Linked DNA regions of Homo sapiens. The protein of the gene in region 2 interacts with the protein of the main gene of each other region in a biochemical or structural test. Each region holds a gene or a part of one and is shown on either strand. Other genes may lie near its edges.

The links. Proteins that work in one complex are often made in the same cells at the same time.
Region 1: the proteins of PDZK1 (region 2) and OR10G3 interact in a test that uses a peptide from one of them, tested with the Homo sapiens proteins (one large-scale study listed by IntAct).

What each region holds. Positions count from the first base shown.
Region 1 is NC_000014.9:21,577,834-21,581,588, reverse strand, and holds the start of OR10G3 (olfactory receptor 10G3), read left to right. Parts: upstream 1-1,512; 5' UTR 1,513-1,803; intron 1,804-3,755. UniProt on the Homo sapiens protein: Odorant receptor.
Region 2 is NC_000001.11:145,673,335-145,676,431, reverse strand, and holds part of PDZK1 (Na(+)/H(+) exchange regulatory cofactor NHE-RF3), read left to right. Parts: intron 1-218; coding exon of another isoform or gene 219-274; intron 275-2,105; coding exon of another isoform or gene 2,106-2,162; intron 2,163-2,550; coding exon 2,551-2,775; intron 2,776-3,097. UniProt on the Homo sapiens protein: A scaffold protein that connects plasma membrane proteins and regulatory components, regulating their surface expression in epithelial cells apical domains.

The sequences.
Region 1 (3,755 bases), on a different chromosome or scaffold from region 2:
AATTAAGTAAATAAATAAAACCATGCCGGGGTTGGGCTAGGTGGCTCACTCCTGTAATCCCAGCACTTTGGGAGGCTGAGGCGGGCAGATTGCCTGGGGTCAGGAGTTCTAGTCCAGCCTGGCCAACATGGTAAAACCCTGTTTCTACTAAAAGTACAAAAATTAGCTGGGCATGGTGGTAGGTGCCTGTGATCCCAACTACTCGTGAGGCTGAGGCAGGAGAATCACTTGAACTCCGGAGGCAAAGGTTGTAGTGAGCCGTGATCACACCACTGCACTCCAGCCTGGGCAACAGAGTGAGACTCCGTTTCAAAAAAAAAAAAAACCCATGCCCATTTGTATGTGTATTTTATGGCTGCTTTCCCATACAATGGCAGAGTTGAGTAGCTGCAACAGAGACTGTATGGTCCTCAAGGCCAAAAACATTTATTATCTGCCTCTTTAGAGAGAAAGTGTGCTTTCCTCTGCTTTAGACACTTTAACACAATTGTGGCTTGGAAGCTACAGAGACCTCCACAAAAGTTTGGTGGAAAAAATAATAAAACTAAACCATATTCAAGATGTTCTTTTACAACACAGACCATCTCTGGACATTTGAAGACAGTTGGGAAAAATGTTGCGACAACACCAAATTTAAGTCTAGAAGAAAATAAGTTAGACCAAATTCAAAGTATTCAAGGAAACAAGACCAAGAAATACTAAGAAAAATAACAGGCCGGGGGCAGTGGCTTGCACCTGTAGTCCCAGCATTTTGGGAGGTAGAGGGAGGAGGATCACTTGAGCCCAGGAGTTCAAGACCAGCCTGAGCAATCTAGTGAGACCTCGTCTCTACGAAAAATTTAAAAATTAGTCAGGTGTGGTGGTATGTGCCTGTAGTCCCAGCCACTTGGGAGGCTGAGGTGGAAGAATCGCTTGAGCCTAGGAGGATGAGGCTGCAGTGAGCCGTGATCACGTCGCTGCACTCCAGCCTGAGCGACAGAGCAAGACCCTGTCTCAAAAAATAAATAAATAAATAAAATTGTAAAATTAAAAAAGAAAAATCACTGTTCAGGGAGCTTGACTTAAAACATTACAGATGATAGTTGGATCAGATGACCTCTAATGTCCCTCCAACCCTGAAATTCTGTTTCTTCTAGTCTGTGAAGGTCTATGTTAGCACCTTAGTAATTCAAAGTGTGAATTTCTTAAAATGTGAATGCACCAATAAGAACACATCTCTTGCCAAGTAACAACCATGTTAGCTTTTTCTTCTCTTTTTTTCCAAATTTGCTTTGGAACAGAAAGAAAACCACAGATCTGAAGATTTCAACGAGACCTGTTAAGCCCCACAGACTTTGTCGCACCTGCTGTTACAAAATTGGAAAAAGCTAGAAACCCAGAGAGTCTCCTAGGAAACAAACTATGGATATTGGTCTTGCCTATCACAGGAGTGCTATTACAATATTCCCCAAGCTAAAGGTCTCACACATAAAAACTGACTCTGAGGGAAATAGAAGAAGTAGTAGAACACAGGAGAGACCAACCTTAACAGTTATCTTCAGTAAGAGCCACAGCTCCTCCCCCAGTTCATAAGGAAGCTGGAAGCAGATATCTCTACAAATAAGCAGGCAAATAATAAATTAAGTTTCCATAGTTTGACTCTTTACTTTGATCCAGCCAAAAGTAATTAGTTGGGTCTTCTGCCACGAGCTCTTCACAATAATTGCTGCTGACCTATGAGATATTCAAGATTCCTTAGGAATAGATTTGTATCCTTTCTCTCCGTCTGCAAGAAGAGTTTTTGATGGATGCTGACACCTTCAGGTGAGTTCCTCTTCTCAAAATAGCACCTGCCACTGTTCTAATCCCATTTTTCAGAGATAAATGTTAAGTCCAAACATTGTGTAAGGGGTTTCTCTACTCTGAGTCACTTCATCTCTCAATATTCTTACTTGTTTAGTTACTCAGTATAGTTCTTTTTCTGCTGTCACAAAAATTTTCTTTGCTGTTCTGCTCATATGACTATGTAACTACCATTTAGCCTTTTTATAAATAGTGGCTAATAGGCCAAGCATGTTGGCTCACACCTGTAATCCCAGCACTTTGGGATGCCAAGACGGGCGGATCACCTGAGGTCAGGAGTTCAAGACCAGCCTAACCAACATGGTAAAACCCCATCTCTACTAAAAATACAAAAATTAGCTGGGGGTGGTGGTACACGCCTGTAATCCCAGCTACTTGGGAGGCTGAGGCAGGAGAATCACTTGAACCTGAGAGATGGAGGTTGCAGTGAGCCAAGATGGCACAACTGCATTCCAGCCTGGGCAACAGAGAGAGACTCCATCTCAAAAATAAAAATTAAAATTAAAAAAATTAAAAAATTAAAAAATAGTGGCTAATATTGGATAACACTATTTCCCCCAGGCCTTTAATTGGCTAAATTTTTCTCCAAAGCTATTCTCCATTAAAAGTCCATTCACTGGTTTTAATACCAACCAGACTAGGAAGAGCATCTTCGAGTTCTGTGGTGGTGCCACCCTTGCTCTGTTCTTTTTGTCCTCACCAGGTCCCTTCCACCTATAAGACAAGTTCTCTGCCCAAAATTTGAAAAATGGACATGAGTAAAGCTATAACCTGATTTCTTTGTTGGCAAATATTTTAAACAGACAATTCTAACTCATTGCTAATAAGGGTTTTACATTTTAATAGAAATTGTCTCATGTCTCTCAATTTAATAACTCAAACTTTTCTCATATTATATATGTATATATTTGTTCCATTGTTATTCATCTTTAAATTATTTTCCATTTTATATGTCTTATTGTGAAATTTATTTTAAAAAGAAATTAATTATATTAGTTTTCCAAATATTTGAAATGCTTTTTATAAATAAAAAAGTGTGCTTTGAGTCGATTTTCAGAAAATAATAAAATTTTTAAAGTTTTCTTCATGGCCATTTGAAAGATGGGTTAGGGATACAGTTTGGGACCAGAATTAAGTAAAATTCATTTGCTGAAATGAGGTTAAGCCTGTGCCCTTCGCCTCATTAGAAAAGATGTCTAATCTCCTTGGTTGCTCAAAATTATACACTTTTATTTAGTTTGTGGTCCCCTAATATTTCTCATATATTTTTCAAACATTCATGTACTAGATGGTCTTTATTTTATTTTGTTTATTTATTATTTATTTATTTATTTTGAGATGGAGTTTCATTCTTGTTGCCCAGGCTGGAGTGCAATCGCACGATCTCAAGTCACTGCAACCTCTGCCTTCCGGGTTCAAGCTACTCTCCTGCCTCAGCCTCCTGTGTAGCTGGGATTACAGGCTCATACCACTATGCCCAGCTAATTTTTGTATTTTTAGTAGAGACGAGGTTTCACCATGTTGGCCACACTGGTCTCAAACTCCTGACATCAGGTGATCCACCAGCCTTGGCCTCCCAAAGTGTTAGGATTACGGGCATGAGCCACCGCGACCGGCCTCTAGATGGTCTTTAATATTTGATATCAGATGAGAATTCAAAAACACATTTAATCAATATATTCAAAGACTAAGTATCTGTGAAATAAAAACACTACTAAGCCTTCAGGCTTTTTTCTTTTTTTTTGAGTTGGAGTTTTGCTCTTGTTGCCCAGACTGGAACGCAATGGTGTGCTCTCAGTTCACTGTAATCTCAGCCTCCCAGGTTCCAGCGATTCTCCTGCCTCAGCCTCCTGAGTAGCTGGGATTACAGGCATGTGCCACCACACCACACTAATTTTGTATTTTTAGTAGAG
Region 2 (3,097 bases):
CTATGGGGCACAACAGGACCAGAGAAGCCATAGGGAGCTAGCTTTTGGCTTAAGAACCAACTGAAGCTGCCAGAAATGATGAGTCATTTTGCAGTTGGTGGAAAGTCAAGCAGAAATCAGAGGCGGCTGCTGCAGCTGTTTGTTGTAAAGGGGATTCTGACCCCTCCTGATCTTATCATAGAATGATTTAATTGTAATTTTTCTGTTTTGGTTAATAGAGAACTTTGATCGAAAAAGAAGCCTGCCCTCATCATCTCCTTCCCCGCTCTCCAAAGTAAGCCCTGTAGGTTGGGGTGGAGGGTAGATCTTTGAGATACATCAGTGAGTAAAACACAACCCTCTAGCAGTCCCTGGCACATACTAGACACCCAATTATCTGAATGAAGCATGAATAAAATCTCATTTTTTTTTTTTGAGACAGAGTCTCCCGCTGTTGTCCAAGCTGGAGTGCAATGGTATGTTCTCAGCTCACTGGAACCTCTGCCTCCCAGGTTCAAGTGAGTCTCCTGCCTCAGTCTCTCAAGTAGCTGGGACTACAGGTGTGTGCTACCACACCTGGCTAATTTTTATATTTTTAGTAGAGAATGAGGTTTCACCATTTTGGCCAGGCTGGTCTCGAACTCCTGACCTCAAGTGATCCGCCCACCTTGTACTCCCAAAGTGCTGGGATTTCAGGCATGAGCCACCAAGCCCGGCCAAAATCTCAAGTGTTTTAATGTTATTGCACTTTGCCTCGAGATGAGCTGCGACTGTCAGATACAGTTGATTTGCTTGTTTGGGTAGTGTTATCAGACGTATTTTTGCATGTAATGAGTCACCTGATAATTTTCCATATTTTAAAGAGAAAGGCTCCATTGTGGAACTGTTGCAAGTATATGACTGAAAGGTCTGAAGTTAGTTGAACTGGGTAACTAGGAGGTTCTGTGCTGGTGGTATTCTCACTTAGAAAGGAAGGAGATGTGGTCTTGTGGTTAGTAAGACACATGATAACCAGAGGACTAAAAATCTAATTTTAGTCAGGCTGCTAAACAGTGCGATTTGAAGTAGAGCCCACACTGTGCTCACCTTCCATTGCTTGATTTCCTACTCATCACCTAACAAATGTTCCGGACACGTGTGGGCAGCCATTTAGCTGCTGATCCAGGATCACACCATACCCAGGTCCACCCTTCTAATTGTCTCAACTAAAACAGCCAGTTAGGCTTGTAATTCTATTACAAAAAAATCAATCCTGTTTCCTGTTCTATGCCTCTTCGGTATTCAAGATCATCATTTCTTTACATGGATGGTCTGGGAGTTGATATGAATTAGGAGTATTTAAAGATGTTGGAGAGTTTGGCATAATAGAAGTGACAGCTAATGCTTACAACAATACATAGCAAAATAAATAAGCACAGATCCCAGGTCTGGAAGGGGAGGGTATTGGCAAGCAGCAAAGGGTTGGAATTAACTTTTGTTACAATATGTGACCATATAACAGCTGTCACCCTCTCACCAATTATTCCTGTGTATATGGGTTGGTCTCTTCTAGTAGCTTTGAATCTTTGGATAGTGATAAAAATAGTGTTATATTAACATTCTCCAGAGAGACAGATCTAGTAGGATATAGATACAGGTATGAGAGGAGATTAATTAGGGGAATTGGCTTGTATGATTATGGAGGCTGAGAAGCCCCACGACAGGCTGTCTTCAAGCTTGAGACCCTGGGATGCCAGTAGTGTGGCTCCGTCCAAATCTGACTGAGCCACATTACTGGCATCACCCCTGATTGGCAGTCCTACTTGTTTGCTTCTGTGCATTTGGCCTGAGAATCTGGGGGGCTGCGGCTGTAGATCTTAGAGTCCAAAGGCCGGAGAACCAGGAATTCTGATGTCCAAGCACAGGAGAGGAAGAGGGTATCCCAGCTCTAGCAGACAGACTGACACCTTTGCCTTTTCTGTAGTTCACTCAGACTCGCATGCTAATCCCCTCTGGAACCACCTTCACAGACACACACCAAAATAATGCTTTGCCGGGCTTCTAGGTATTCCTTAATCCAGTCAAGTTGGCATCTAAAATTAACTATCACAAGTGTCTTGTGTTTTACTTTTTCTAATGTGTTTAAGGAGCTCTGAAGACCATCTTACCGAAAGGAAAAGCCAGAAGAATGTACTCTGCATGAGGTACCGGCTAGTCGGTCAGATATGTCATTTCCCAACAGGGAGATTATGTATAGCTTGTTCAGTGACTTGCTCACTATCATGAACTCACTCAAAAGAAACTAGCAATTTTTTAGACTTCTTTTGGGATCCTTGTACCGCATCCTATACTGCTTTTATGTTCATGTGTGCATTTGTGTACATGTATACACATATTACTCCATAACGAAGCACAGTCTTCTTTTATACCTTTCCTGGTTGGGGTAGTAGAGGAATTTTACAGCCTACAATCAGACACATCCAGAAGAAGAGTGGAATATGTATGATACCTTAAAAATCAGCACATTTAACAAAGTATAACTTACTCATGGTTACAACTAAGTTAATGTTTTTTCCCTTTATTTTTCAAAAGGCTCATTTTTCTCCATTTCTCTACTATCAAAGTCAAGAACTGCCCAATGGCTCTGTCAAGGAGGCTCCAGCTCCTACTCCCACTTCTCTGGAAGTCTCAAGTCCACCAGATACTACAGAGGAAGTAGATCATAAGCCTAAACTCTGCAGGCTGGCTAAAGGTGAAAATGGCTATGGCTTTCACTTAAATGCGATTCGGGGTCTGCCAGGCTCATTCATCAAAGAGGTATGGTAATCTGGTTCCAGCAGCCCAACAAACACAGCCACAATTAGGATAGTCTCAGCTTTTCCCACCCATTGATGGCTTAGTAGAGAGGTTCCATTGAAGGCACACACTGAGGGGTCTCACTTGGGTTCAGATAAATGTTGTCATGGTCCCACACCCTTTAGGTTAGCTACCAGTACATCATAAGCTCACGTTTGTTTGTTTCCCAAACATCTGTTCCAAACAGTGTGAGTTGACTGAACTCTAGTTGACAGTCACTATCAACCCTGATTGGCAGTCATATTTGTTTGCTTCTGTGCATTTGGCATAATGCCCCTTACCC